Homo sapiens: one gene and its partners. The protein of the gene in region 2 purifies or fractionates together with the protein of the main gene of each other region. This does not show direct contact. Each region holds a gene or a part of one and is shown on either strand. Other genes may lie near its edges. The genes, in order: ADCY6, NEUROG3, ZNF496 and GXYLT2.

Region 1 (7,022 bases), on a different chromosome or scaffold from region 2:
GCAGGTTTAATTACAAGGGACCCCTCAGGGTACTCTGTGAGCATAGAGGAGTGTGGCCCTGGTGGGGACACAGGCATGCATGGATGACAGTGCTGTCAGCCTCATCTTATTCTGACCTGGGCTCAGCCAGGAGTCACATTAAAGGTATCATCATGGAGTCCTCCCACCTCAGTTCATGACATTTCCTCCAGGAAATGTGGGATCTGGGACTGATTTGGTTACCATGATCTCTATAACTTGGGCCAGCCATATAAAACTGCCATGGACCTCAGTTTTTGTTTATATATATTTTTCCTTTCAAATTTGTCTTGTGCCCCAGGGGGCAACAGGACCAGTTTCTCAGGGTTTTGGTGAAGATCAGATGGAATTAGGGATGTGAAAAGATCTTGAACAGTTTAAAGCATAGAGAAAGTGCATGGAGTATCATTCGTCCATCCATCCAGTCATCCATCTACTCAATGAACATTTATTATTATTATTTTATTTTTTGAGATGGAGTTTCGCTCTTATTGCCCAAGCTGGAGCGCAATGGTGTGATCTCAGCTCACTGCAACCTCTGCCTCCTGGATTTAAGTGATTCTCTCACCTCAGCCTCCCGAATAGCTGGGATTACAGGCATGCGCCACCATGCCTGGCTAATTTTGTGTTTTTAGTAGAAATGGGGTTTCACCATGTTGGTCCGGCTGGTCTCGAACTCCTGACCTCAGGTGATCCACTCACCTCGGCTTCCCAAAGTGCTGGGATTACAAGTGTGGGCCACCATACCTGGCCTCAATGAACACTTGTTTAGGTCCTTCTAAGGGTTGTGGATACAGCAGTGAGCACAGCAGGTCAAAATCCTTGCCTTCATAAGGCTGACATTCCAGTCAGGAGAGACAGAAAATGAACACATAAGAAAAATATATAGAATGGCAGTTGCTGATTAGAGCTATGGAGAAAAAGCATAAAGCTGGGAAAAAGATAGAGAGCTCCAGGAAAGGGGGTTGCTATTTTAATAGGGTGGTCAGAGGGAGCCTCACTGATAAGGGGACATTTGGGATGTGACCTGGAGGAGCTCTTGTTCCAGACAGAGGGAACAGCAGGCACTGAGGTCCCAGGCTGGCCTGTGCGGGGTGTGTTGGGAAACAGCAAAGAGGTTCTTGTGACTGGGGTGCAGTGAGGAAGCTGAAGAGCCTTAGGATTATCACTGTTAGCTGGTGGCAGATCATGAGGTCAGGAGATCGAGACCATCCTAGCTAACACAGTGAAACTCCGTCTCTACTAAAAAATAGAAAAAATTTCCCTGGGCATGGTGGCAGGCGCCTGTAGTCCCAGCTATTTGGGAGGCTGAATGGTGTGAACCCGGGAGGCGGAGCTTGCAGTGAGCCAAGATCGTGCCACTGCACTCCAGCCTGGGTGACAGAGTGAGACTCCGTCTCAAAAAAAAAAAAAAAAAAAAAAAAACTCCAGATTTTTTCTTCTGCTTCTGTTGAGAAAAATCAGATCGGGACCCACTGGGACCCAGTGGCAACAGTCTACAGCTGCTGGGTGGTGCCTGCCCCATGCACAGGGTATGAACTCTTTTCCTCCCAGTTCTGAACCATAAGCTGCTTCACTCATTGACTTGGGCACTTGAGTTTGTGACCACCAACAAACAGTGCCTTTTAGGGAAATTTTCAAGTATACTGGCTTTGGGGTCAGACAAATCTGGTTTAGAATCGTGGTTCTCTCACTTATGTGGCTGCTGGATCTTTGGGCAACTCTTTCTTCTTTTCTTTTCTTTGTATTTTATTTTATTTTATTTTATTTTATTTCCCTCCCTTCCCTCCCTTCCTTCCCTCTCTCCCTCCCTCCCTCCTTTTTTCCTTCCTTCCTTTTTTTTTTTTTTTTCAGGCTATGGCTATTGCCCAGGCTAGAGTTCAGTGGTGCACAATCCTGGCTCACTGCAGCCTCCACCACCAGGGCCCAAGCAATCCTCCTGCCTTAGCCTCCTGAATGGCCCGGTCTATAGGTGCATACCACCACACCAGGCTAATTTTTTTTTTTTTGAGACGGAGTCTCACTCTGTCACCCAGGCTGGAGTGCAATGGCGCGATCTTTGCTCACTGCAACCTCTGCCACCCGGGTTCAAGCAATTCTCCTGCCTCAGCTCCTGAGTAGCTGGGATTACAGGCGCCCGCCACCACGCCCGGCTAATTTTTGTATTTTTAGTAGAGACGAGGTTTCACCATCTTGGCCAGGCTGGTCTTGAACTCCTGACCTTGTGATCTACCTGCCAGGGCCTTCCAAAGTGCTGGGATTACGGACGTGAGCCACCACGCCTGGCCCAGGCTAATTTTTTGAAATTTTAATAGAGGCAGGGTCTTGCTGTATTGCCCAGGTTGCTCTCACATTCCTAGCCTTAAGCCATCCTCCTATCTCGGCCTCACAAAGTGCTGGGATTACAGGTGTAAGCCACTGTGCCTGGTTTTGGGCAAGTTTCTTGTCCTGACTGTGTCTTGGGTTCTCACCTGTTGATTGGGGATACCCTTGTTGCCTACCTCCAAGTAATTTTATGAGGATGAAACTCATAGCTTGTCAGTGGGAAGTGCTTAGGTAATGAGCTACTAGTGGTGGCAGTGGCTGTGATGGTGGTATTAATACCACTCCTACTGGATGGTCTCTAATACTATCTCCTTCCTTCCCTACCAGCAACATGTCATGGTTTAGTGGCCTCCTGGTCCCTAAAGTGGATGAACGGAAAACAGCCTGGGGTGAACGCAATGGGCAGAAGCGTTCGCGGCGCCGTGGCACTCGGGCAGGTGGCTTCTGCACGCCCCGCTATATGAGCTGCCTCCGGGATGCAGAGCCACCCAGCCCCACCCCTGCGGGCCCCCCTCGGTGCCCCTGGCAGGATGACGCCTTCATCCGGAGGGGCGGCCCAGGCAAGGGCAAGGAGCTGGGGCTGCGGGCAGTGGCCCTGGGCTTCGAGGATACCGAGGTGACAACGACAGCGGGCGGGACGGCTGAGGTGGCGCCCGACGCGGTGCCCAGGAGTGGGCGATCCTGCTGGCGCCGTCTGGTGCAGGTGTTCCAGTCGAAGCAGTTCCGTTCGGCCAAGCTGGAGCGCCTGTACCAGCGGTACTTCTTCCAGATGAACCAGAGCAGCCTGACGCTGCTGATGGCGGTGCTGGTGCTGCTCACAGCGGTGCTGCTGGCTTTCCACGCCGCACCCGCCCGCCCTCAGCCTGCCTATGTGGCACTGTTGGCCTGTGCCGCCGCCCTGTTCGTGGGGCTCATGGTGGTGTGTAACCGGCATAGCTTCCGCCAGGACTCCATGTGGGTGGTGAGCTACGTGGTGCTGGGCATCCTGGCGGCAGTGCAGGTCGGGGGCGCTCTCGCAGCAGACCCGCGCAGCCCCTCTGCGGGCCTCTGGTGCCCTGTGTTCTTTGTCTACATCGCCTACACGCTCCTCCCCATCCGCATGCGGGCTGCCGTCCTCAGCGGCCTGGGCCTCTCCACCTTGCATTTGATCTTGGCCTGGCAACTTAACCGTGGTGATGCCTTCCTCTGGAAGCAGGTAGGTGGCCAGGGAGGTAGGGATGGAGGGCAGCAGGTGGGGAATTTCTCACCTCATAAGCAGGTGGGGGCTTAGTGAGGAAGGGCGGGTGAGTCATGGGTGGAAGCTGGGTGCAGGGATGTCTGGCTGTATCTGGGAGGAGGAGCAGGAGGTGGGAGGCTAGGGTTGAGGGGTCTGCCTCCATGTGGGATCTGGGGTAGAGGACACTGCTGAGGGGAGGGAGGGCCCCAGGACCCAAGCCTGAACTCTGTCACCATGGGCCCCAGTCTCCGGCTCTTTAGCCCGCTGAAATAGTGCAGTCTGTAGAGACAGAATGTGGGGCTGGAGGCAGGGGTGTGGTATATAGCCCCAGGGCCACCGTGGGGCTGAAAAGGCAGTGCAGGCTGTGTCCAGGCCTTAGCATCTCAGCAGGCAAGTTGACACCAGAGACTGAGGCGCTGGTGCTATCCCTGAAGAGCAGCTCTAGGTGGTGATCTGGAGGTATAGAGCAGGTTTTGGATGTTGTCAGCAAGAGAGGAGTCCCCTCTTTCCTGGACCAAGGCCACTTCTGGGAGGACAGGGAAGGTGAAGAGCTGGGGTCAGTTCTCTCTGGGCTGGATGTGGTTTGAATGGGGTTGGACTGTTGAAGAGAGGAGCGTTAAGTCTGATCGTATCCCACCTTCCCCATGCTGGGCACCAGGGACCTGGGCGCCTTTCCTTGAGGTTCTCTGTCCATGCCTGTTGCTGCCTCCAGGCTCCAAGTGTGTGTGAGGTGGGACTCCACGGCTCCGTGTGGAGTGGCTGTAGGCTGACCTGCTTATCCAGTGGGCTGTATTCTTTTCTGTGGGATCTTAGACAACTAGCCTCACCTCTCCCAGCCTTAGTTTCCCAGTCTGCAAAGCTGGAATAAAAATAGCATCTAGCTCATGTTGCTGTTGGGGCCCCACCCTTTCCTAGAGTGGAGTAGAACCCGACTGGGCAGTGTTCACACCTGGGGGCAGGGAGGTTTGGGGAGTGCTGGAAGGCATGGTACCCAGTGAAGGGGTTTCTGGGAAGTCCCTTTCAGAGAGATGTTAGTTTGTGGATCTGCCATCTCCTGTTACCCCCCTGCCCAGGGAGCAGAGGCCAGGGTCCTTCAGGCGCTGCTGTAGGCACAGCCCCGCCATCAGCACAGCGCCTGGGTCCTCCACTGGACCCTAACTAGAGAGTGCTGTCTTGCTCAAGGTTTTGAAGGCTTGTGGCCTGTTGCCCACCCTGCCTCAGGCACAGAGAGGAAGTTGCCTGGGGATCCCAGGGTGAGAAGCTAGGTTCTCTGGCATGATGCCCTTCTCCACCCAGCCTGTGCTGCAGAACAGAACTTACCTGTTTTTTTTGTGGTTTTTTTTTTTTTTTGAGACGGAGTCTTGCTCTGTCGTTAGGCTGGAGTGGTGCAGTGGCGCGATCTCAGCTCACTGCAACCTCTGCCTCCCAGGTTCAAGCGATTCTCCTGCCTCGGCCTCCTGAGTAGCTGGGACTACAGGAGCGCGCCACCATGCCCAGCTAATTTTTGTATTTTTAGTAGAGACAAGTTTCACCATGTTGGCCAGGATGGTCTCGATCTCTTGACCTCATGATCCACCCGCCTTGGCCTCCCAAAGTGCTGGGATTACAAGCGTGAGCCACCGCACCTGGCCAGAATGCCAGAATGCCAGAACGTACCTTTTTAAAAGTAACTTTATAGCCCGTTTGTTTGTGGAGCACGTGCCCTTAGGGCACTGTCAGACATCTTAAAGGGCCAGGTCCTTCTGCCCCAAAGCTTCTCTTCCAGGGTGGCTCTCAACCAGGGCTTTATGGCTGGACTGCCCTCCTGGGGAAGGAGCTTAGAGGTGGTGTCTCCTTTCCCCCTTCCTCTCTGGCCAGGCATGGGCTGGGTGGGCATCTGTTCCCTGCTCTCGACTGGCATGGTGCCCAGAGCCAGGCCCAGTGCCTGACTGGGGAGGTGCAGTCCCAGGGAGGCCAGGACTGTGCCCGTCTCCCCAGGAGTGTCTGGCTACAGCTTCATGTAGTGGATCTCGATAGGCACATTCTTGGGGCAGTGGCGAAATTCACTGCTGCCCCTGTGCCAGTCCTTGGGGCCAGAGCTGCCCATACAACTTCCTCTGGGCTGAGAAACATTCCCTGTGCCCATTTGGGTATGTGGGTTTCTAGACAGGTGGGGTTTGTGGCCTCCTTCCTCGTCTACTTGGGCAGCCCCTTCCCAGATCCACCCCTACTCACAATCACAGGAAGGAGACTTTGTCCCCTACCGACCCACTCATTTAGACATACTGAACAGTGTCACCCAGTGACCCAGGCCCAGCTTGGAGTCTCCTCCGGTCCCCTGGCATCCATTTTTTCTCATAGTCAGATAGGGATGTGTGTGTACAGAGTTATTTCAGTCTCGTCCCCCTTCCCCTTCCCTCCACCGTGACTCACATTTTCCTCTTGGGCTCCTGGGGCCAGGAAGGGAAGTTGCCTGGTTTGCCCCCCTTCCCTTCTCCCCCACTGGGGGCTATTCTTAGAAACCCCCAAGGGAGATAGTGTGCCCCTCTCTTCACCCCTGCTGCTGGGAGGGGGAGCTCAGCCTAGTTGATCCTGGGCCTGTGAGCTGGACTGGGAAGGGAAGCTAGGAGGCCCATCCCAGAGGCTGGAGCTGGAAATGGCTAGGGGTGAGCCAGGCCTCCCCCTCAGTTTTACCCAAGAGGAAACTGAGGTCCCAAAGTTTAAGTGACCTGCCCAATTTTGCAGGACTAGTTCTAGTTCAAGTTAGAGCCCAGAACCTCTGGCTTCCAGGAAGTGCTTCTGCTGTTTCTCTCCCTTCTCCTTAAACCAGAGCCCTGCCCCATCCAACTCTGGGGTGGAGCCGCAAGCTCCAGGTTAATTCCTGAGTTTCCAGAAACACTGAGGCCAGCTTCCCTTAGACTTGCTCTCTAGCCAGTGCCGCTGATGATGATTGGGGGCTGAACATTCCTAGGGTGGGGCCCTAGGCCTAGGGCCTGGCAGGGCTGAGTGTCAGAGGGAGTTACACCTTGAGGGGTGGCCAGGCATGGTGGACCCCATCTCCAATTAGGGGACATCCTTTGTATCAGTAGAACTGATGACTCTCAAGCCAGGGCTCTGAGGTTGGGCTTGAGAGCTTGACTCAGTAGAGTGAGTAGGAATCTTGGAAACCTGGAATGCACTACAAAGTATGGAATGCAGTAGATAGATAGTAGGATTAGGACACAGGATTTGGAATCTGATTGTCCTGGGTTCAAGTCTCACACTAGCCACTAACAGCTGTGTGATCTTGGGGAAGTTACTTGGCCTCTCTGTGCCTCATTCCCTTACCTTTAAAATGGGATATTGTTACCTATTTCACAGAGTTTTAAGAAATGTGTTAGGGGCCAGGTGCGGTGGATCATGCCTGTAATCCATGCCCGTAAGCACTTTGGGAAGCCGAGGTGGGCGGATCACTTGAGGTCAGGAGTTCAAGACCAGCCTGACC
Region 2 (6,802 bases):
GGCGCCGCGCGCGAGCTGCGGACGCCTAGGGGAGGCGGCCCTGAGCAGGGAGGGGGGATCTGGAAATAAAGACCTCCGGCTCTCCTGAGCGCCCGGGCCCTCTCTTCCCTTTGTTCGAAGACTCCCTGGGCCGGAGCTCCCGTGTGCGCCCTGGGGGGTGGCATATGGCGCCCTGTCACCTACCCAAGAAAAAGAACCGGCCACCCTTTCAAGAGCGCACGAGGTCCCTGAGCCTGGGGAGGGGGAGTCTCTGAGGGAACGGCTTCTCTCCGAAAGTGGGTGAGGAGCCCGTCTTATCTCTCCCTACCCTGCCTCCACCATCCCCTCAGCTGGCGCAGCAGCCGTTGGGTGGGGAGCTGCGCGCTGGGCAGCACCAGCCTGCGGAAGCGCTCCAGCTCCTGGCAGATGAAATATGGGTCTGGTGAGCCCCTGGAGACCATATGCTTTCAATAAAAGAAGACAAATAGGACCGAGATAGGCCTTGCAGCCAACCTGTTATAAATGAGTGGCAATTGGGCCAATGTACACGGGGGCAGGGCCCCCGCGGGGAGGCCTGCTTGGTGCCAAATCCATGTGTCAGCTTCTGGGACAGGTGTGTCCAGGGGCCAGGGGCCAGGTCTCCCCCCTCCGGGTTTATCACGGCAAAGGTAATATTGTGCTAACTATGAGTAAACAGTCATTGTGAAAATGAGGGAGAGTTTATCAGGGCGAACTAGTTGGGGGGTGGCTTAACAATAAAGTTGTTCGCCTTAGGAGCAGGTGACGGCTGGCTGCACGGACTCCCGCGGTAGATGTTTTCCAAAGCACTCCACTTTACAATCTCTTGTAATTATTTATTAAACGAAATCTATTTATTATTATTTTAGCAAACACTGGAGACAGGTGGGGCTTTCTTTTCGTCGTCTCCTTTTGTTTGAAGGGCTGTTTGAAGTGGCCAGTCTCGGCCCGGGCAGCTCGCTCGCCAGATTTTTGTCTTCCCCTCTTTCACTGCTGAGCTGAAGGCGAGAGAAAGAATCCCCCTCCTCTGGCAAGCCATTAGCTATTCAGCTTCCCATGGCCCCCCTCCCTCCCTGCACAATTCTCAAAGAGCCCCCAGGCAATGCTAAAACTACCCCCGCCGACAAGAAGGCAGGAAGGCGGGCCGCTGCCTTCCTTCTTTTCCAATGTGCCCGCGGTCTCCAGGCGTCTGGCTACCGCCTCTCTCCGGGACCCCTCAGCCTCCAGGCAAACTTAGGTCTCAGGAGGTGTAGGGGTGCGGGAGTCCTGGAGGTCTTAGGGGCGGTGGATGACCAGGAGCTGCAGGAACAGACTCTGCTGTCTGCGGGAAGAGCCATTTCACAAACACTGCCGGTGCGCACGGAGTCATTACCGCCTGCGCCTCCGCAGCCAAAGGCACAGGAATTAACTTTGGAGAGGGGTCTATGTGTCCCCTGCAGCTGAGACAGAGGGCATGGATCCTCAATCTCTAATCGCCTAAGACTCCTTGACCTCCGGCCCTGGCCTCCTGGCTGGAAGAGGACTGCGGGAAATCCTTGCATCCCTCAAGAAGGCGGCTGCCCCCAGCCACCGCGCGCTCCTCGCCCTGGCTGCTTTTTGCGCAAAGCAGGAGTGATGGAGAACTGCAAGCCCTGGAGGGCCCTGAGCCGGAGGGGTTTGGGGGAGGCTGGATAAGAATTCCAAGCAGGTCCCAGAATTCTCTACCTATCAAGAAAGCTTGAAAGAATCCCCAGAGTCTTTCCTGGCATGGGAAGCTCACCCTGCGAACCTTGTCAGTATCCATTAGCCGCTCCAGGCAGGCCCCAGCCAGAGTGAGACCTACCCCTATCTGAGGTCCACTCACCCCCATCTGAGGTCCACCGCCAGATGAGAGTCATCCACAGGCTTCTGGGAAACCAGAGCGGTGCTTGGATCCCTCGTGGCCAGGGTTCCCTCCAAGGTGCTTAGCCAGGTCAGGAGGCCCTAGAGAAGCATGGTTTGGATTTTCTTTCCCAGACCAAAAAAGCTCCAAGTTGGTTCTCTCCCAGTTTCTAACTTGCAGTTAAATAAATCAGGCAAGGCTGGCCTATGAGGCAGACAAGTGTGAAGAAGGAGAAGGAGGAGGAGAAGGAGAAGGAGAAAGAAGAAGAAGGAGGAGAAGAAGAAGAAGAAGAAGAAGAGGAGGAGGAGGAGGAGGAGGAGGAGGAGGAGGAAGCAGCAGCAGCAGCAGCAGCTTGAATGGACAGTGGTTCCCCTTGCCTAGAAAATGGGACCATTATTTCTTTTCTAATCTGACCCCCAGACTCAGGACTTCCTCTATTTTCTGCATTTTGGGGTCTCTTGTTTTGCCTTGAAAAAAAATGTTTTCTCCCAAATCAAGGAGCAGTAGCTGGTGCAAGGGAAAATCTAGGGCTAGGAGTCTTAAGATATGACTTCTATGTGGTTCTGATAGAACTTGCTGTGTGACCTTGAGAGAGTCACTCCCCCTCTCTGGGCCTTGATTTTTTCATCTTTAAAGAAGGCCTCAAATTCCCATTCTTATGAGAAGAAGACAAGCTCCTAGTGAGTGGTGACCTAAGGGAGCAGCTGCAGCAAAATGCTAACCTGACAGTCCCAGATGGTCCCTTTATTGGTTCTGACCCTGGTCTCAGGCTTCATTTCCCCACAGCAAGGGAAGGAGCCTGCTCACAGAGCACCAGCTAAGATCAGCAGGACCGCGCCACACCCCCGCCCAGTCCTAGAGCCCCCCTCTCGCTGGTTCCTGAGCATACCACCCTCTTCCTTGGAGGAAAATTTGCCCCCAAGCAGCCTAGGCGGTAAGAGGCTATCACTAGGGCAGACTCACAGACCTACCTCATCCCCTCACCCCACCCTACAGTCTCGAAGTCGGGTCCTGTCCCCTCCTGCAGTTTCCGGGAGACTCAGGATATCTGGACCTGCTAGAAAGAGAAGCCTTCCTCGCCTAAGGAGACTTAAACCGGGATACTTAAACCTCCCGCCTCGGCGTCTTCCTCCAGGCACGACCGGGTCAAGAGAGAGAAGCGGAAGCTGCAACCCCTCACTCTGAGTGACCGGAAGCAGAAGACCACGGGATGTCCCAGGCGGGGACAAGAGGAGGGGCTGGGGAAGAAAGGAGGGATGATGAGTTCAGAGTCCCTTTGGAAAGGTTTCCAGAGAGCGCTACCAGGGACAACCCAAGGGGCTGGGGAAGTCCCTGCCTTGTGCTCTCTGTGCGATGCCCGAGTGATGCAGAGGCAGGGGGCTGGAGCAGGTGACTGCTGGCAGCTGCTGTCTGTCTGTGATTGGACCGGAGGACTAAGGGGAGAAAAAGTTTATCAGCTTCTCCCAGTGCCTGCACGCTGTGGTAGTTCAAAAGACACGAGGGGGAGGGGCACAGCAGCTCTGCTTCCCAGCGCCTTGGGAGACTGAAGTGAAAGGAACGCTTGAGCCCAGGAGTTCGAGACCATCCTGGGCAACAAAGCAAGACCGCCCCTCACCCCATACAAAATAAAAATACAAATAAATTAGCCGGGCACAGTGGCGCATGCCTGTAGTCTCAGCTACTGGGAAGGCTGAAGTGGGAGGATAGCTTGAGCCCAGGAGATCAAGGCTGCAGTGAGCTGTGATTGCACCACTGCAGTCCAGCCTGGGCGACAGAAGGAGACCGTTTTTTGGTTTTGTTTGTTCGTTTAAAAAAAAAAAGAAGCAAGAGCTCACTGTGAACTCCTGGTTCCTTCCTCCCCTCCTCACACTTCCCAGAACTCTTCCTGTCACGGTTCCTGGCCAGAACGCTGGGATACTATCTACAAGCTGTAGTAGGCTTGTAGTAATGGAATGTCCGCTTGAGGGGTCCCCGCACAGCCAACCCCTGCCTCTGGAGTGGGATCTATGGGGGTGGGGTTCTAAGCGCCTCTGGGGAGTGTGAGGTAGCATCTCAGGGTGTGGCAGAGGCTCGGACACCCCCAAAAGGTCTGCGAATGGAAGGGACATAGGCAGGATCTCTCTCAGTGATGTCCCCTGTCTTCCAGGATGAAGAGAGGCAGTGAAACACCAGGAGAGCAGGGCGTCCTTTAGAATTCCTGGACCCTTCTCCAGGCTGCTAGTCAGGACAATGAGCTCGTGGTTGTCTTTGCCACTATCTTCCTGTGCGATTTCAGACAAGCCACCTCCCTCACTAAGCCTAAATTTCCCCATGTGTAACGTGCAGGCATTGTACCCTAGAGGCATCAAAGTCCCCTCCAGGACAGATGCTAAGGAAAGATAGGCTAGGAGCAAAGCCGTCTGAGGTGGCCTGACCAGAGCCACACGAGGCTCTTCTCACTGGGCGAGGCTCTTTGAGGAACCGAGAGTTGCTGGGACCCAGCCCGCCCTCGAGAGAGCAAACAGAGCGGCGCTCCCCTCCCCCGACCCCGGCCCTTTGTCCGGAATCCAGCTGTGCCCTGCGGGGGAGGAGCGGGCTCGCGTGGCGCGGCCCCAGGGCCCCGGCGCTGATTGGCCGGTGGCGCGGGCAGCAGCCGGGCAGGCACGCTCCTGGCCCGGGCGAAGCAGATAAAGCGTGCCAAGGGGCACACGACTTGCTGCTCAGGAAATCCCTGCGGTCTCACCGCCGCGCCTCGAGAGAGAGCGTGACAGAGGCCTCGGACCCCATTCTCTCTTCTTTTCTCCTTTGGGGCTGGGGCAACTCCCAGGCGGGGGCGCCTGCAGCTCAGCTGAACTTGGCGACCAGAAGCCCGCTGAGCTCCCCACGGCCCTCGCTGCTCATCGCTCTCTATTCTTTTGCGCCGGTAGAAAGGTAATATTTGGAGGCCTCCGAGGGACGGGCAGGGGAAAGAGGGATCCTCTGACCCAGCGGGGGCTGGGAGGATGGCTGTTTTTGTTTTTTCCCACCTAGCCTCGGAATCGCGGACTGCGCCCAGTGACGGACTCAAACTTACCCTTCCCTCTGACCCCGCCGTAGGATGACGCCTCAACCCTCGGGTGCGCCCACTGTCCAAGTGACCCGTGAGACGGAGCGGTCCTTCCCCAGAGCCTCGGAAGACGAAGTGACCTGCCCCACGTCCGCCCCGCCCAGCCCCACTCGCACACGGGGGAACTGCGCAGAGGCGGAAGAGGGAGGCTGCCGAGGGGCCCCGAGGAAGCTCCGGGCACGGCGCGGGGGACGCAGCCGGCCTAAGAGCGAGTTGGCACTGAGCAAGCAGCGACGGAGTCGGCGAAAGAAGGCCAACGACCGCGAGCGCAATCGAATGCACAACCTCAACTCGGCACTGGACGCCCTGCGCGGTGTCCTGCCCACCTTCCCAGACGACGCGAAGCTCACCAAGATCGAGACGCTGCGCTTCGCCCACAACTACATCTGGGCGCTGACTCAAACGCTGCGCATAGCGGACCACAGCTTGTACGCGCTGGAGCCGCCGGCGCCGCACTGCGGGGAGCTGGGCAGCCCAGGCGGTTCCCCCGGGGACTGGGGGTCCCTCTACTCCCCAGTCTCCCAGGCTGGCAGCCTGAGTCCCGCCGCGTCGCTGGAGGAGCGACCCGGGCTGCTGGGGGCCACCTTTTCCGCCTGCTTGAGCCCAGGCAGTCTGGCTTTCTCAGATTTTCTGTGAAAGGACCTGTCTGTCGCTGGGCTGTGGGTGCTAAGGGTAAGGGAGAGGGAGGGAGCCGGGAGCCGTAGAGGGTGGCCGACGGCGGCGGCCCTCAAAAGCACTTGTTCCTTCTGCTTCTCCCTGGCTGACCCCTGGCCGGCCCAGGCCTCCACGGGGGCGGCAGGCTGGGTTCATTCCCCGGCCCTCCGAGCCGCGCCAACGCACGCAACCCTTGCTGCTGCCCGCGCGAAGTGGGCATTGCAAAGTGCGCTCATTTTAGGCCTCCTCTCTGCCACCACCCCATAATCTCATTCAAAGAATACTAGAATGGTAGCACTACCCGGCCGGAGCCGCCCACCGTCTTGGGTCGCCCTACCCTCACTCAAGTCTGTCTGCCTCTCAGTCTCTTACCACCCCTCCTCCAATGTGATTCAATCCAATGTTTGGTCTCTCAGCGCTTACTCCCCTTGCCTTGCTCCAAAGACGCTGCCGATCTGCTCTACTCCCAATCAGGTCCGGGATTTCAGGGCGCCTCACTCTGCCTTAAAGCCACGAAGGCGACCCTCTGCCTTCTCCTCGTGCACTTTTCGGAGCCATTGCCCTCCCGGGGCGGAAGACCAGGCTGTGAACTGGGAAAGCGCTAGCCCGGCCAGGGAGCATCTCCCCAGCCTCCCTGCGAACTGCGCCTGAAACGTGAGCTGCGCTGCAGGTGCCTGGAGCACCGCGCATCTTTTTTTTTTAAATCTGTTTGTAAATTATATGATGCCTTTTGAAATCAATTTTGGTACAGTAAATTATATGGCCCCTCCCCTGTTTTACACATTTGTATTTATTAATGAGATTTCACAGCAGGGAAAAGCCTATATTTTGTATATTAGATTATTTAGGGATTGCTGGATGAGATTTTAAGCCAATAAAAAAAAATGGACCTTCAAGAAGCCTTGGCAAGATGACTCCATTGTGTGTTGGGGAGAGGAGGGCCACAGTCACTACAGCTGAGGAAGAGCACTTCTGTCCAAAGAGAGGGATGACACTCTTTCTGGAGGTCTGGGCTAGAGCCAGGGCAGATTGGGTTTGGAGAGCTGGAAGTCTTCTAAGTAATTATTGGTCCAGCTCCCTTTTTTCTATATAGGGCAATGACTCCTCTTATTTCAAAGAGTGGTTTAGAAGAAAGACAAGCCTCCAACTAGGACAACTGACTCTCACTTGCTGGCCCTTTCCCCAACTCCACCAGCCTAGCTTTA
Region 3 (7,124 bases), on a different chromosome or scaffold from region 2:
TCTAAAAAACAGCCTCACAGAAACACCAGACTGGTGTTTGAACAAAAACTGAGTACCACAGCTAGCCAAGTTGCCTCATAAAATAAAACGTCACACTTGCTCCTTATTTTACTGGAGTGTTGGCAAAGTTGGAAGAAGCCTGCCCCAGGCTCTCCCTGCCCAGATGCTGTGGACATGCCTCAGGTCCAGAGGCAGCCTTCCCTGCCCTCCGGCTCCCCGTGGGCCCTGGGTGCCAGCCCTCCCTCCTCCAGGCGATGCACTGCAATTTCTCCCATCTTTAAGATGAGACCGTTTTTCTCCACAGGGCTGTGTCCACTCTCATCTCCCTTCTCTTCCAGAAAGTGCCCTAGCCCAGGAGCTCCACTGTCTGCTTTGCTCAGGGGCCTCTCTACCAGATTCAATGGGCAGTGTTCTTTCCTCATCGGATTTGATCTTGGCGCAGGATTTATCCCCCTGACCTCTTTCTCTCCTTGAAACACAGGTGCTCACTTGGATTCCAGGGCTCCACACCTGCAATTTTCCTTTTATCTCAAGGCGGCAGCAGCTCTCCCTACCCCCTTCTCTTGCCCTCGTCCTCCCTCACTTTCCTCCTCCTACTTCCCCTTCTCTCCCTTCTCCTCCACTAACCCCTTGGGCTCCCACGGTCCAGGGCTGGCATTTCGCAGGGTCTGCCCTCCCTGGGGCTGCTTCTCAAAACACACTCAACCCTCTCAAGCCCCAGCTCCTGCTACATACGGTGACTCCAGATTTCCACCTCCAGCCACAGCTTTCTATCCCAGAGGGTCATCCCCACTTGTCTCCTGGGCATCTGAAAACCAGCAAGTCCCAAATCCACCAATTCAACCCCAAACCCAACCCCTTCCTGGAAACCTGCTTCCTTGCATCTGCCATCTCTAGAAGGCCTGTTCAGTCACCCAGTTTCAGCCCCAGTCACAGCCGTTCCTCACTCCTCTAACACAGGCAGCATGCCTTCAACACAGAGCCTGGATTGGGCCTACTGTTCACCAGCTGTGCCTCCACCAGTCAACTCCAGGAACCGAGCATCTCCTGCCGGGATCTCTACAACGATTCCTAACAGAGACTCTGCTTCATCTGTTCTGCACAGTGATCTTGATAAAATCAAGATTCCGTTAGGCCACACTCCTACTTGAAACCCTCTAATGACTATAACATCTGGTGACCTGGTTCCAGCCTCACCATTCTCTCACTATTCCTCTGCCCAGCTGAGCAAGCACACGCTGTTTCCTCTGCTGGAATACTCTTCCCACACACCTCTGCTCAGGAGCCCCCCACCTGCTCTCCACTCAAATGTCACCTCCTGACAGAGGCCCTACCTGAACATCCCCAGCACACTCTTCCCCACCATGTTGTATTTCTTTCATGACACCGATCACCAATGGCGTTATATTGCAGAATCGCTGATTTATTATTTGATTCCCCTCCCAACTCCTTGGATCATTCTTCTATGGTCTCCCCATGGATCGAATAATCATTGGCACATAGCAAACATTTCATAAAAACAGATACAATTGGCAACATTATATTCATACAAACCTAATACACGCACACACTGGGCATGATGATGGTGCAGTCCTTGAGCAGGGTTTACAGGCAGGATCCTCTTCCCGATGCTTCACCCGTGGTATCTGATACAACCCCACTTCATTCAGAGGCGAACACCTTCCCCACGGGCTCCTGTGCCCCCACCCAGCTCTATGCCATCCCTCTCCTCTCACTCACCAGCCCACCTTGCTTCGCACCGCTCCCCCTTAGGGCCTTTGCTGTCAAGGTGGTCTCCATGTGTCAAACAGGGACTCTGACCAACTACTTCATCTCAAATACCACCTTCACAGTAAGGCCTGCCTGCCCTCCTCTTTAATACCATGACTGTTACCAGCCCCTCCCCAGCACTCCTGACTTCCTGATGCCTCTCCACTTTCCTTTTTTTCTGTAGCACAGATCAAAGAGAGCAGGTCATGTTACTGATTTTGCTTCCTCCAATAGCCAGTTGTGTTCACAGATGTACCTGAGCACCTGGAAGGCTGGCTGCCTAGCACTCATGAGTGTACAGTAGGTACTCGGTATAGGTTTGCTGAATGACTGAATCTTTGATCCTGCACAACCATCCAATGAGGTAGACAGCATCATCCCTGTTTTCTGGATGAGGAAGTTGAGGTACAGAAAGGTTATGTAGGCCTGAGGTCACCTGGCTAGGAATTCATAGGGCAGGATTTAATCCGGGTGCCTGAGTCCAGAACCTTGACTCTGAAGCCCTGTTTTGAGCTAAATGCAGCAGCAGCATAAACAGCCCGTTTTGTGCCTCAAAAGGTGAACAGTGGGAGGCACAGCTGGGCAGGGACGTGTCAGGTCAGGGGAAGAAACTGAATTGGGTAGTGGGGATTAATTGGATGCTGTCTGCCAGCAATTTCTGCCTCCTGCATTTTATCTGCTTTAGGGTTGCAAGGGGCAGAGCTATGAACACGGATGCCCACTCAACAGCCAGTTCCTGGGCCAATCAAAGGGTTGGGAGCTGTAGCACCAGAGCTCTGGAACCCCACAGACTAGGATGTTTGCTAGAGCACCTAAGCCCTACCAGCCTTTGATGACCCCTCGGTTCCTCCCAATTCCTCTCCTCCATGTCACGGTTCCTGGCTGGTGTTCCTGAGAGTGGGCTGTACATGAGTTCTGTAAATGCCAGTCCAGTTACGTCAAAGGGGGTGGCTCTCACTTGTACCTGTAGGCTCCAGCTAAGATCTGCGTGGCCCTGCCCGGCATCTGGCTGTCATCCGGGAAACAATCACTGTTCACAAACAAGGGCTTCACTCCTTCGCTCGCTCCATCTCCTGCTAAAGTCAGAATGTGAACACTGACAAACAGCGGCTCCCAGTAACTCTGCTAGTCAGAAGTGATTATTCCAGCAGTTCAGAGGAGGAAGTGGCGGTGCCCAGGGCCACGGGATTAGAAGAGCAACGGAGCTAAAGGATCCCGTGCCTCAGTCCAACCACCTTGTTCCCACTTACTCAGCCGGGCCACTTTCTTTGGAGAAACTGATTTCCTTCTGCTTGCCCTTGAAAGGGGATCCGAAGGAAATCGGAGCTACCGGCAGTAGCTACCCTCCGGAAGACGGAGAATCTTCTCCACCTTCTCCTCTGCGTAGGAGAATCCAATTTCGGTGCAGAGCAGATGGCGAAGGGGCCATGGGAATCAGACCTGCTCAGGGACCGGGTTCGCACTTTCTCTCAAGCTCTGGAGCCTGAAAAATGAGCATTCCCCGGGGACGACCCATGTAAGAATTTGGGCTATATTCAGCATAGTGCAGCGGCCAGCAGCCCTGTCTCGGGGTGGGGTCCGGAGGCCCCCATTTCTGCTTGCCCCTCACTGCCACATAACCTTGGGTCAGAGTCCCTCATCCTCTCCCTCCGCCACTGTGCACAGCTGCAACCGTGTTCACTTCAGCGAGCAACGAGCCCCGTGACCCCCACTCAGGGTCAGGACTCACCGCAGCCCCTCTGCGCAAGCCCCGAGGCTCTGCGTGGCCTCCGGATGCGCGGCCTTTCCTAACCCGGGGACTCCGCACGTGGGCGCCAGGCCCGGAAGGCGCGGATGTGAGCGCTACCTTCGGCGTCCCGCAGCGGCAGGAGGGGCTGGGCGGCCCGGGCTTCGGCTGGCGGCGGGGGGGGGGTCGCAGGGGAGTCTGAAATGAGGCGGCCGACGGCGCGCGGGGCCTCCTCTCTCCGCTCCATCCCGCACCCCCAATTCCAGCTTCCATCCCCAGCCGCGACTCCCGGTCGGCCGTTCCGGGCGTCCACTGGCCGCGTGTCCTGGGGGCGCCAGAGAAGGAGAACAGCGGAGAAAAGAGCCCCGGGCCGACCTTCCGGACCGGCGGGCCCGCGGGGAAGCCCGGGCGCGGCGACGTGGCTGACCCACAAAGCCCCCGGCCCGGCGGCCAGGCCCAGGCGCGCGCGGAGCGGGGCGGGCCGGGGGTGTCGGATGTCACCCCCAGCGCACACCTCGGCCGGGGGGCGGGGGAGCGAACCACTGAGATGCGGAGACCTCCCCAGTCCTAGAGCGGAGCAGGAAGTGTCCCAGGGGAGGGAGCCGGAGGGCTCCGGCCTTTCCTTTCCTCGGCGTCCGGCGGGCTCCCGCGGCGGCCAGGCCTGCGCCGCCCGCCAACAGGGACGCGCCGCGGCGGTGAGTGCACCCCGGCTCCCGCGGCCGGCCCCGCCCCGCCCTCCTCGGCCCGCGCCCGGCCTCCGCGGCGCCGCCTCCCAGCCCAGAGCCCAGCGCTCAGGAAGGTGCGGGCGGGGGAGAAAGCAACACCATTGTTTTTCAGGCGCCTCCATTTGCCCCCGAGCCGAGCCGTGGCTTTCCGGATGATCGGGAGACGCGGTCTGGACGGGCCGGGAAAGGAGCCGGGCGCCTGCGGAGACCCCGCCTCAGCGAGTACGCCCGGCCGGGCGGGCTGGGAGGATGAGGACGGCTGCCCTGGACTTCCGCCGCCACAGGAGGGTTTTCGGCCGGACGCCGGGAGGGAGCTCCAGGCTGTGAGGTGAGGAGCCCGGAGCCGGCGAGACGGGAGACGCGCGTGTGAGGGAGACCGAGGGCGCGGAGGGCGGGCTCCCCCTTCCCTGGCCCACAGCGACCTTCTCCTTCCCTTTCTGCCGATCCAGCTCGGTCCCTCCTCCGCGAAAGGCTGGGAGCTCGCTCCGCCCCTGCGGGGCCCTCCTCCGCCTCACTCACGTTAGTTCATTCATCAGGCATCTCCTCCGAGCCTCCGACGCGCCAGGTGCCGCCGTGACAAAGACGGACGCGGCCGTCTGGTTGGAGACGATCCGAGTGGCAGCCCGGGTGGGCGCCGGTGCTCGGGGGGGCGGGCCTGAGTAGTCCTGGGCGCTGCAGGTGTGTGATGGGCGCCGCAGGGGGCCGCCGAGCAGGGCGGGCGGGGCCCACCCCGGGCTCCAGATGCCGGAGCCGCCCTGGAAGCGATCCGGTGGTGGGGAGCGCTGTAATGCGTCCAGCCCGACGCCGCCACGGCCCCCATATGGGTTTCTGTGTATGTTGTTACTTTGGAAAGCAAAGAGATTCAGAGCAGTGGGTGTTTCTGGAACCACTCAGTTGTTCCGTAGCTTTTCTGGCATCACTTGTCTTTCTGTGAAATGGGAGTGAGGCCCGAGTCCCCCTTCCCACCTTGTGAGCTGTTGGAGGTTAAGACGCGGCCACGCTGGACAACCTCGTGCAGATGGGGGAGTGGCAGGCACTGCCGGTCCTAAGGATCACAGAGGCCTGATGGCAGAGAAGGGGACTGTGAGTGTCCCCATGTGCCCTTTCACGGGCCCAGCGTTCTAAAGTGGGAATCATAAACACCAGGTATACTGGTTGCTGGTCTCTTGCCACCCTAGTTGTGGCAAAAGTGTCGGCTAGTTGTCTGCACACCAGCGGGGAGGTGTAGGGACCCCTGAGTCCCACCTTGGGGGTGTGGCAGCTGCAGTGTCCAGGGGTTCTTTGAGGGCTGAGCTGTGCAGTGACGGACCCACTTTTCTGTCCTGGCCGAGGAAGGGCTTTGGCGAGTGTGCAGTTGCCTTCAATGTGGTTTGAAGAGGGCAAGGATAGAGAATAGGGTGGAGGCGAGGTTGAAGGTCAGGGCAGAATTGGCAGAAGGCTCATAGGAAACCACTGATACTTCTAGATGCAGTGTTATTTGTCCCTGGTAGACTGCATGTAGCTGTCTCATGTGATGTTTTCCCTTGCCTCCCATTGCAGACTCTGCTGGGCAAAGCTGATTCTGGCTGGGTTGTCCATCCAGCACGCAGCACCATCAGCCCTCTGCCACCAGAAGGGTGGATTTTCCATTCCTGGATGTGCTTGAAGGCTCATCCGATGCATGTCTTTGTCATTCCAGCTCCATTTGTAAAGGTCTTAATAACAAGAACAGTGACTTCGGCTCCGGAGCTTCAAGATAGTGGCCTGCTTGGCCTGCCCATCTCGGATCTCTCCAGGAGGACCCAGCCACCCAAGGTACCAGAGCGTCTTGATTACATCTGCATGTGGCGCTGTTGGTTTCCTGGGATGCTCAAAACAGCAGTGTCACGTTGAAATGCCACCACTTTCTCCCAGATTTCCTGTCTTGTTCATCCAGTCACCCACTTAACGGGAATCCACACGTAATGGTACTGATGGGGGGAGGGCATCTTTCTGTCTGTTTCATCCTGTGTGTAAAGACCAGCCACACCAACACTCCCTACCTTTCCCAGGGCTTCTCCAAAGGGCTGGTCTCTGAGGGCATTGACAGTTTCCTTGTCACTGTCCCCCAGAAATGACCACAGGAGACCAGAACACTGAAGCCAGTGATTTCTGTTTGGAAATAGGGTCGTCTTCTGCTGCTGACCCCCATCAAATCCCATCATGCCCACAGCCCTGTGCCCCCGAGTCTTGGCTCCGAAGGAAAGTGAGGAGCCCAGGAAAATGAGGAGCCCACCTGGAGAGAACCCTAGCCCCCAGGGGGAGCTTCCCAGCCCCGAGTCCTCTCGGCGTCTCTTCCGCCGTTTCCGCTACCAGGAGGCGGCGGGCCCCCGGGAGGCCCTGCAGCGCCTCTGGGACCTGTGCGGGGGCTGGCTGCGGCCTGAGAGGCACACCAAGGAGCAGATTCTGGAGCTGCTGGTGCTGGAGCAGTTCCTGGCCATCCTGCCCCGGGAGATCCAGAGCTGGGTGCGGGCGCAGGAGCCTGAGAGCGGAGAGCAGGCTGTGGCCGCGGTGGAGGCACTGGAACGGGAGCCCGGGAGACCCTGGCAGTGGGTGAGTAGAAGAGGTGGGGCTGGGACGGGTAGAGATCTGGTACTTAGACACTTTGGCTGGGCCATGCATGTGCTGGCTGGGGAATGAGGAGTTCCATCGAGAGCCATTTACTTTGGTTAGGTCCAGACTAGAGTTTCCTAAGAAAGCCAGTTTTACTCCCTGAAGGCTCTAATTTGGGCATGATAGTGTCGTGCCCCTTTACAGCCCAGTCCAAGGCCTAAGTTGAGCCTTTGATGGTCAGCTGTGGAGTGGATGGTCACCAGGCCCAGGGAGAGATGGGACCTCTTCCCCTAGCCCTGAAAAGCTGTCTCTGGGATTGCAGCTCAAGCACT
Region 4 (7,636 bases), on a different chromosome or scaffold from region 2:
TGCCCAGCCCAGACAGCTCTATTGTAAAAGAAGATAAAAGAATTTCTTGAGACCAAGAGGTAGGCAAAGATTTCTTAGACAAAACACCAAACCTACTAACCCTGAGAGAAAAGACTGATAAGCTGAATTTCAAAAAAAAAAAAGAAACTGGATCCTTCCAACAATCATGTGAGTGAAACCAGGAGCAGATCTTTCCCCAGCTGAGCCTTCAGATGAGACCACAGACCTGGGCCAACAATTGATTATAGCCTTGTGAGAGACTGTGAAGCAGAGGGCTCAACTAAGCTATCCCTAGATTCCTGACTGACAGAAACTATGAGATTATGCATATTATCTTAAGCCACTAAATGTTGGGGTCATTTTTTTTGCAACAATAGATCAGTAATATAAGAGGTGAGGGAAAGAGGATGGTTTCCACCTAATTTCTGGCTTGAGCAACTAGGTAACTAGAGGTGTCAAGATTCTAGGAGAAAAAATAGATTTCAGAGCTTCCAAATTATTAAATATTCCCACATCCAGAACTTTTAATACAGTGGATTCTCAACGAATTAAAATAAAATGCTAATATGACAATGATTTAGAATATAATTGAATTTTAGATGATTTATAAAGCATTAAAATTAAGCATTTTTTTTCTATCAGACATCTAAGTGAGACATTGGGTAAGCCATGGGTAAGGGAGTCTAGAAGCCTTTTCTATAACATTAGAGGATGTAGCTCATTCTGTCTTGTCACCACCAGGTAAGAAGTGCCTTTCACCCTCTGCCATGATTCTGAGGCCTCCCCAGCCATGTGGAACTACATGTGCATTGCCATTGTGATTTCTCTTCTCATGATCCTGATATGTGCTATTGGCTACTTACAGAGCATACAAGCAACACATAGCCTAGATCCTCCCATTCTTCTGTTACCAGATCTTTAATTTTGCCCTGAATACCTTGGTTGCAATCACTGTGCTTGTTTATCCAAACGGCATTCAGGAATACATACGACAACTGCCTCCGAATTTTCCCTACAGAGATGATGTCATGTCAGTGAATCCTACCTGTTTGGTCCTTATTATTCTTCTGTTTATTAGCATTATCTTGACTTTTAAGGGTTACTTGATTAGCTGTTTTGGAACTGCTATCAATGCCAGGAACTCCTCTGATGTCCTGACTTACATTACCAGCAATGACACTGCCCCTGTATGATGATACCACTGTGAATGGTGCTGCCAAGGAGCCACCACCACCTTCCATGTCTGCCTAAGCCTTCAAGTGGGCAGAGCTGAGGGCAGCAGCTTGACTTTTAGGACATCTGCGAAATAGTTCTGTTATTTCACTTCTGCAATGAGCTCTCTGAGCTTGTTTGTTGCTGAAATGCTACTTTTAAAAGTTTAGATGTTAGGTTGAAGCCTGTAGTTTTTAACGTATGCTTTGCTAGAACACTGTGATAGATTAGCTATAGAATTCTTTCTGTAGGATTGGGGGTGTAACGGGCTTCACTAACCTTCCCTAGGCACTGAAACTTCCCCCAAATCTGATGGACCTAGAGTCAGAGAAGTCCACTTTTGTACCTGCTGGGACCCAAAGTTGAGCAGTTAGTCACATTTTTTCTCTCTGTTCCCTCTCTTTTGAAAGTGTAAAATAAAATCAAAAATAGACAACTTTTTCTTAAGCCATTCCAGTGTAGAAAACAAAACCTTATGAAAACAGGAATGTCAATTATGTAATCATTATTCTAATTAGTTAAATAGAAGTCCTTATGTATGTGTTACAAGAATTTCCCCCATAACATCCTTTATGATTTAAGTTCGATGACAGTTTGCGCTTGGTGGTAAAGGATTTTCTCCATGGCCTGAATTAAGACCATTAGAAAACACCAGGCCATGGGAGCAGTAACCATCTGATGACTGTTCTTGTGCATCTGGTGTCCAGGGACATGGGCGACGTGCCTCATCTGTGTTAGAGGGTGGAACAGATGTGTTTGGCACTGCATGGGATCTGGTGTTCCTCTTCTCCTGGATTCACATCCCCACCCAAGGCCCTCTTAAGTGTTCTGCCCTAGCCTGGTTCAAGGAGGTCATCCAACTGACTTTATCAAGTGGAATTGGGATATATTTGATATACATTTGCCTAACAACACGGAAAAGGGTTTTCCTCCTTCTTTCCCTGCAAGGGACATCCTACTGCTTTGAACGTCCAAGTATGCCTAGTCATCTTTTAAAATGTAAACGTTTTCAGAGAAATGAGGTTTGCTTTCCTTGTATGTGCTTATTATCTTGACTACCTGAATTGCGAGGGATTTTTATATATTCATATGTTCCAAAGTCAGCAACTCTCCTGTTGGTTCATTATTGAATGTGCTGTAAATGAAGTCTTTTGCAACTAAAATGAGATTTGACCACATCCAAAGAAAAAAAAATTAGAGGATGTAGTTTTCCACCAATCAGAGCAATCCAAACAAATCCAAAAGTTGAGTTTGGACTCAGTGGAAGGAGGCAGATTAGGCTTTTTTTTTTGGCTTCAGTGAGGTTCAAGAAAACTGAGTCCTCTCTTTGGTCCATGATTCTTTGGTGTTTGAGGCTAAAACCCTGGCTACTAATCAAGTGTTACTTTGACTCACTCTGCCTTTGTTTATCCTTGTTGCATCTGTCCTCCTAGAGGTAGAAGGGAGGGGGCAAGACAGAGTTGGGAATGCCTGCTTCTCTGGGCCACATGTCAACAGAGTGGTGGCCATTTCTAAACCTGAAAGATCTAAACATCATGCCTTAGCCTGGCCTAGTGTTTCTCAACAGGGTCCCACATTGGGCCAGGATAGTTTTCGTTGTTGGTATGTCCTGAGCATTGCAGGAGGTTTTGCATATGCTAGTAGAACCTGTCAGCCTTCCCACAATTCCAGATGCTTCCTGGTAGGATGGAACCTTCTCCCTCATCTTTGAGAACTAATGGATTCTTTGCGCTTACTCACCTACAACATGTCCCCCACACTGAACTTGCACCCTGCCATTTCCTAGATGTCTGCTTGGCAAGAGCTTCCAAATTACTAAATATTCTCATCTCTAGAACTTTTAATACAATGGGTTCTCAAGGAATTAAAATAAAATGCTAATATGAGAATAATTCAGAATATAACTAAATTTTAGATTATTTATAAAGCAACATGGAATCTTGTAGAAACTCAGGGACGGGCTGGGCGCGGTGGCTCATGCCTGTAATCCCAGCACTTTGGAAGAACGAGACGGGCGGATCACTTGAGGTCAGGTGTTCAAGACCAGCCTGGCCAACGTGGTGAAACCCCGTCTCTACTAAATATACAAAAATCAGCCGGGTGTGGTGGCGCAGCCTGTAATCCCAGCTACTTGGGAGGCTGAGGCAGGAGAATGGCTTGAACCCGGGAGGCGGAGGCTGCGGTGAGTTAAGATTGCACCATTGCACTCCTGCCTGGGCTACAGAGTGATCCAAAAAAAAAAAAAAAAAAAAAACTGAAAAACTCAGGGACGTTGTTATAACTTAACTAGTGTTCTTTGTTCTGTGGTGTGCTGAAAAGAGAGTTAATGGAGTCCTGGCTGTCAGTTCACCGTGAGTCATAAGAGGATGTGTCCTAATGTTTCAGATTTGTAACTGGGGATCCCCTGGAAGAATCGTCTGGAAATTACGACCTTCATCTGGCGATTGCAGCTGTTAAAGTCTCCAAAGAAGCCATTCTTACATTGTGTTGTGAAATTATTACTCTATCTCAAATCTGTGCCAGAAAGAAAATAAAATGTGTGTTTATGTGTATATTATAAGCTATGTTTTATTGAACTAATCATTACAGAACTTTTATTGGGCACCGACTGTGAGCCAGGCACTGTGCTAGTTTCTTTGAAGGCATTATTTAATTTAATGCTCACAAAACGCCTCTGTAGTGAGCAGTATTGTCATTCCCATTTTGCACGTAAGGAAGTTAAGGCTTAAGAAAGTTGTGCAGCTTCCTCAGGATCACCAAGCCAGTTAAGCACAGTGTCAGATTTCAAATCCAAACTTTGAAATTCATTCTCTAATTTCTTCAGACTACATGGATCGGTTCGGTCCAGTCTAGCTGTCCCAAGTTCTACTTTGGTGTTTTGAGTCTGAAACCCCAACTACTAATCACGTGTTACTTTTACTCGCTTTGCCTTATTTTGCATGTGTCCTTGTTGAATATGTCCTCCTCCAGGAAAAAGGGAGGTGGCAAGACAGAGGCGGCAATAGGGGTTTATTCAACAGATATTTATTGGGCACCACCACCCGCAGATCCCTGCACTGGGCAAACAGGACAGAGATGTTCCTGCCTGAAAGGATGTGTGGATAAGTGCACAAATGTGTGGATAGATGGATAAAATAAATAAGGAGGAAGCACATGGAATACATCAACAAATAAGTGAATCATGGTATGAGAGAATCAGCGGGAACAGTGGATGGCATGGGTGTGTGAGTGAATGGGGAAGTAAACGAACGAACGAACGAATGAATGAATGAAGTGGTTTTGAGTCTGAGCTACCAGAAGCCCGAGAGCCTGGCTGCGGGCGGGCGGAGGGGCGGCTACTCCACACAGTACGGTAGGCGCAGGCTGCTCCTCCTGTAACCCAGCTCTCACCGCCTCCCCCTCCTCTCCTCTCTCTCCTCCTCCTTCGCCGTCGCCGCCGCCGCCGGCCGCCCGCCGGCCGCCACGACCCCAGTCCCCGGCGGGCGGGCGGAGGAGGCGACCGCCGCGCGCTGCTGCACTCATCCTGCCGCCGCCGCGATGCGCAGAGGGGCCGAGCCGCCTGGGGGCCGCCGCCGCCGCCGCGCCGCACCATGAAGCTCCGCAGCAAGGCGGCGGCGCTGCTCTTGCTCGCGCTGGCCGCGCTGCTGCTGGCGCTGCTGTCCCTGCGCGCTGGCCGCGCTGAGCCCCCAGCGCTGCCCGCGCGCCCCGCGTCCGCCCCGCAGCGCCACCCCGCGCCTGTCCCCGCGCGCTGGCCGGGGCCGGGCGCCCTCCCCGGGGCCAGCCCGGGAGTTCGGAGGCGCCGGCCCCCGCGTCCGCGCCCCCGAGCGGGCCGCCGGGGCGCTGCGAGACTGGAGAAGTTGGCGAGGTGAGTCGTGGCAACCCCAGAATCCCATCTGCGGACCCGTGTCTCGCTCCCTACACCCGTGCCAAGTCCAAGGGAGGCTTTGCGCTGGAGAGACAGATTTCCAAGTTTCACCCACGGGCTGCCCACTTCTGTTTCTTAACCCGATAGAAAAGAAGACCCACCTTGGTGGAGTCCCCCTAACAGCTCGGTGTTGATAATCACGTACATTTTTTGAAGTGTCAAGGAAAGTGGTTTCGTACATTACATTTTTTAACTGTCAAGGCAAGGCGTATTTTTGCACTCTTGCAAACATGCACCCTTTGTTTAATTTGTCAAAAGCCATCACGGTGCAAGAATGTTTTATCTAATTCTCATGTTTCACTGGAGAATTTTACCGAAACCTTAGATATGGTTGAGTTGGAAAAGTTAGATGTTTACCAAGGACTGGCAGCCTCTCATTTAACCTCGAGTACCCCCATGCTTAGAACAGAAGGGACACTTGACCTAAGTTTATTAAAAAGAAGTTTTCTCCTTGAAAGGACTGATGCGTGGCACAGAAAAGACAGAGTGGGGGTTTCCAGATCCTCATTCTGTTTCAGGCTCGAGTGTGGTCAAAGGGTCCTCCTACAAGAAAAACAACTTAACCTTCGACCTTCTGTTTGATACTCTCTTTCCCTACACAAAGCCTAACACGCGGAGGCTTTTCATCAGAGAGCTTTATTTTTGGCCTCAGGGTTGCTGGAACGCCCCGCAGGTTAGGGATTTGAGTTCATTTCCTTTGTTGTGGAGGGCTTTTCAACAATCCCCTTGTCTTGTAGCGAGTCTGTTTCATCTGCCCTTTCAAAACTGTTGTTTCTAACTGCCATTGCAACGTCCTTGTTTGCTGGGCTCCTTAATTTCAACCTGAAAGGAGTTGAAAAATTATTTTTGACCATAATGACTAAATCTCTTTGGTGCCTTTACTGTAACTAAAAGACACGAAACCTCAAGAAGTAGCTGTGTCAGCCTTTGTTTCCCTTCTGTCTCAGTACAAATGGGTACTGACAAGTTTTAGGGGGAAAAAACCCCAACAATCTGTCGCTTTAAAGTACTTATAACACTTTACAGCCCTTTCTGGATGTATACAGTCTTTAAGGATATCTTTGTTAGGAAATTAATAGGATTTCCCCTCTTCTATACTGGAGTTTCTTGTAAGAGATTAATTAGGGTTTAACTGCAAGTTTAATATGATTGCTAAGTTTGATGGGACAACTGGTAAGATAATAATAACTGTCATCCTTAACATCGCTAACCTATTGCCAGGGACAGTGCTAACCGCAGTACATACAAATAGTCACAGTTAACACTTAACATATACAACTACATAATCCACACCATAACCTTCCCCCCCACCGCTGTTTTTCTTTTGGTTTTTTTTTTGTTTTTTTTTTTTTTTTGTGACAAAGTCTTCCTCTGTCGCCCAGGCTGGAGTGCCGTGCTGCGATCTCTGCTCACTGCAACCGCTGCCTCCCGGGTTCAGGCCTCCCAGATTCAAGTGATTCTTGTGCCTCAGCCTGCCAGGTAGCTGGCAAACAGGCGTGTGCCACCATGCCCAGCTGATTTTTGTATTTTTAGTAGAGAGACGGGGTTTCACCATATTGGCCAGGAACTCCTGAGCCCAGTGATCCATCTGCCTCAGCCTTTCCCAAAGTGCTAGGATTACAGGCGTGAGCCACCGCGCCGGGCCCAACCATAACCCTTTGACAGTGGTTCTCAAAGTGTGGACTTCAGACCAGTGGCACAGGCATCATCTGGGAACTTGTTAGAAATGCAGATTCCTGGGCCCCACCCCAACCCTACAGAATCAGAAGCTTTGGGGGGTCAGCAACCGTGTTTTAACACGTCCCTCCCATTGTTTCTCATGCACAACAAAGTTTGAGAACCTGCTCTGCAAAGTAAGCACCAATGGTATCCCCACTTTTCAGATGAGGAAAGTATTGCACAAGGGTTAGCAGTTTGTCCAAGGTTCACAGGTAACCTGGTAGAGAAGGATAAAGATCCAGGCAGTGTGGGCTCAGGTTGAGCACTTACCTGCTATGCTGATGTCAGGCCATAGACTTGCCTGCAATTCGTAATTTTACTGAGATGTCTTTTAAAGAAACACTGTAGATTTTTGGATCTGTCTCATTCTTCAAGGTGTCGAGAACAGTGGCGCAGCATCTTTTTGTGTCTATCTGAACAAAGTGTCTCTGACTAGGAGGAGATCATGAACAGAATCCAAATGGATGTTTTAGGGAAGGAGTGTTTCTATTTCCAGGAGTAACAGTACCCTTGAAGCCATTTTTCTTTTGAACATATCTCTTAGATTATCGTGGAAATTATGGCCAACACCATAGGAATACAGAACAAAATTTTAAAACTGGGGAAGGAGTAAAAAACAAAAGCCACAGGAAGTCTCAGGCTCAAATGCATAAACAGTTGACATTTTCTGGGACTTATTTATTGTTTCTCTTGCTACCTCCACAGAAATGGCAACAGAAGATTCTGAAGTTGTGAGGGAGCAGGAGGAAAGATCTCTGCTCGGTCTCCTTTATTGCTTTC

What was found.
Region 1: the proteins of NEUROG3 (region 2) and ADCY6 purify together in Homo sapiens (co-immunoprecipitation; 3 studies listed by BioGRID and IntAct, with this or other methods). This does not show direct contact.
Region 3: the proteins of NEUROG3 (region 2) and ZNF496 purify together in Homo sapiens (co-immunoprecipitation; 3 studies listed by BioGRID and IntAct, with this or other methods). This does not show direct contact.
Region 4: the proteins of NEUROG3 (region 2) and GXYLT2 purify together in Homo sapiens (co-immunoprecipitation; 3 studies listed by BioGRID and IntAct, with this or other methods). This does not show direct contact.

The regions. Positions count from the first base shown.
Region 1 is NC_000012.12:48,779,087-48,786,108, reverse strand, and holds part of ADCY6 (adenylate cyclase type 6), read left to right. Parts: exon of another isoform or gene 1-1,550; intron 1,551-1,870; exon of another isoform or gene 1,871-2,670; 5' UTR 2,671-2,674; coding exon 2,675-3,538; intron 3,539-7,022. UniProt on the Homo sapiens protein: Catalyzes the formation of the signaling molecule cAMP downstream of G protein-coupled receptors. Functions in signaling cascades downstream of beta-adrenergic receptors in the heart and in vascular smooth muscle cells.
Region 2 is NC_000010.11:69,571,176-69,577,977, reverse strand, and holds NEUROG3 (neurogenin-3), read left to right. Parts: upstream 1-4,555; 5' UTR 4,556-4,768; intron 4,769-4,867; exon of another isoform or gene 4,868-4,933; 5' UTR 4,934-4,934; coding exon 4,935-5,579; 3' UTR 5,580-6,280; downstream 6,281-6,802. UniProt on the Homo sapiens protein: Acts as a transcriptional regulator. Together with NKX2-2, initiates transcriptional activation of NEUROD1. Involved in neurogenesis. Also required for the specification of a common precursor of the 4 pancreatic endocrine cell types.
Region 3 is NC_000001.11:247,328,857-247,335,980, reverse strand, and holds the start of ZNF496 (zinc finger protein 496), read left to right. Parts: upstream 1-4,113; 5' UTR 4,114-4,191; intron 4,192-4,333; 5' UTR 4,334-4,549; intron 4,550-5,899; 5' UTR 5,900-6,015; intron 6,016-6,365; 5' UTR 6,366-6,402; coding exon 6,403-6,792; intron 6,793-7,114; coding exon 7,115-7,124. UniProt on the Homo sapiens protein: DNA-binding transcription factor that can both act as an activator and a repressor.
Region 4 is NC_000003.12:72,883,432-72,891,067, forward strand, and holds the start of GXYLT2 (glucoside xylosyltransferase 2 precursor), read left to right. Parts: upstream 1-4,614; 5' UTR 4,615-4,802; coding exon 4,803-5,077; intron 5,078-7,636.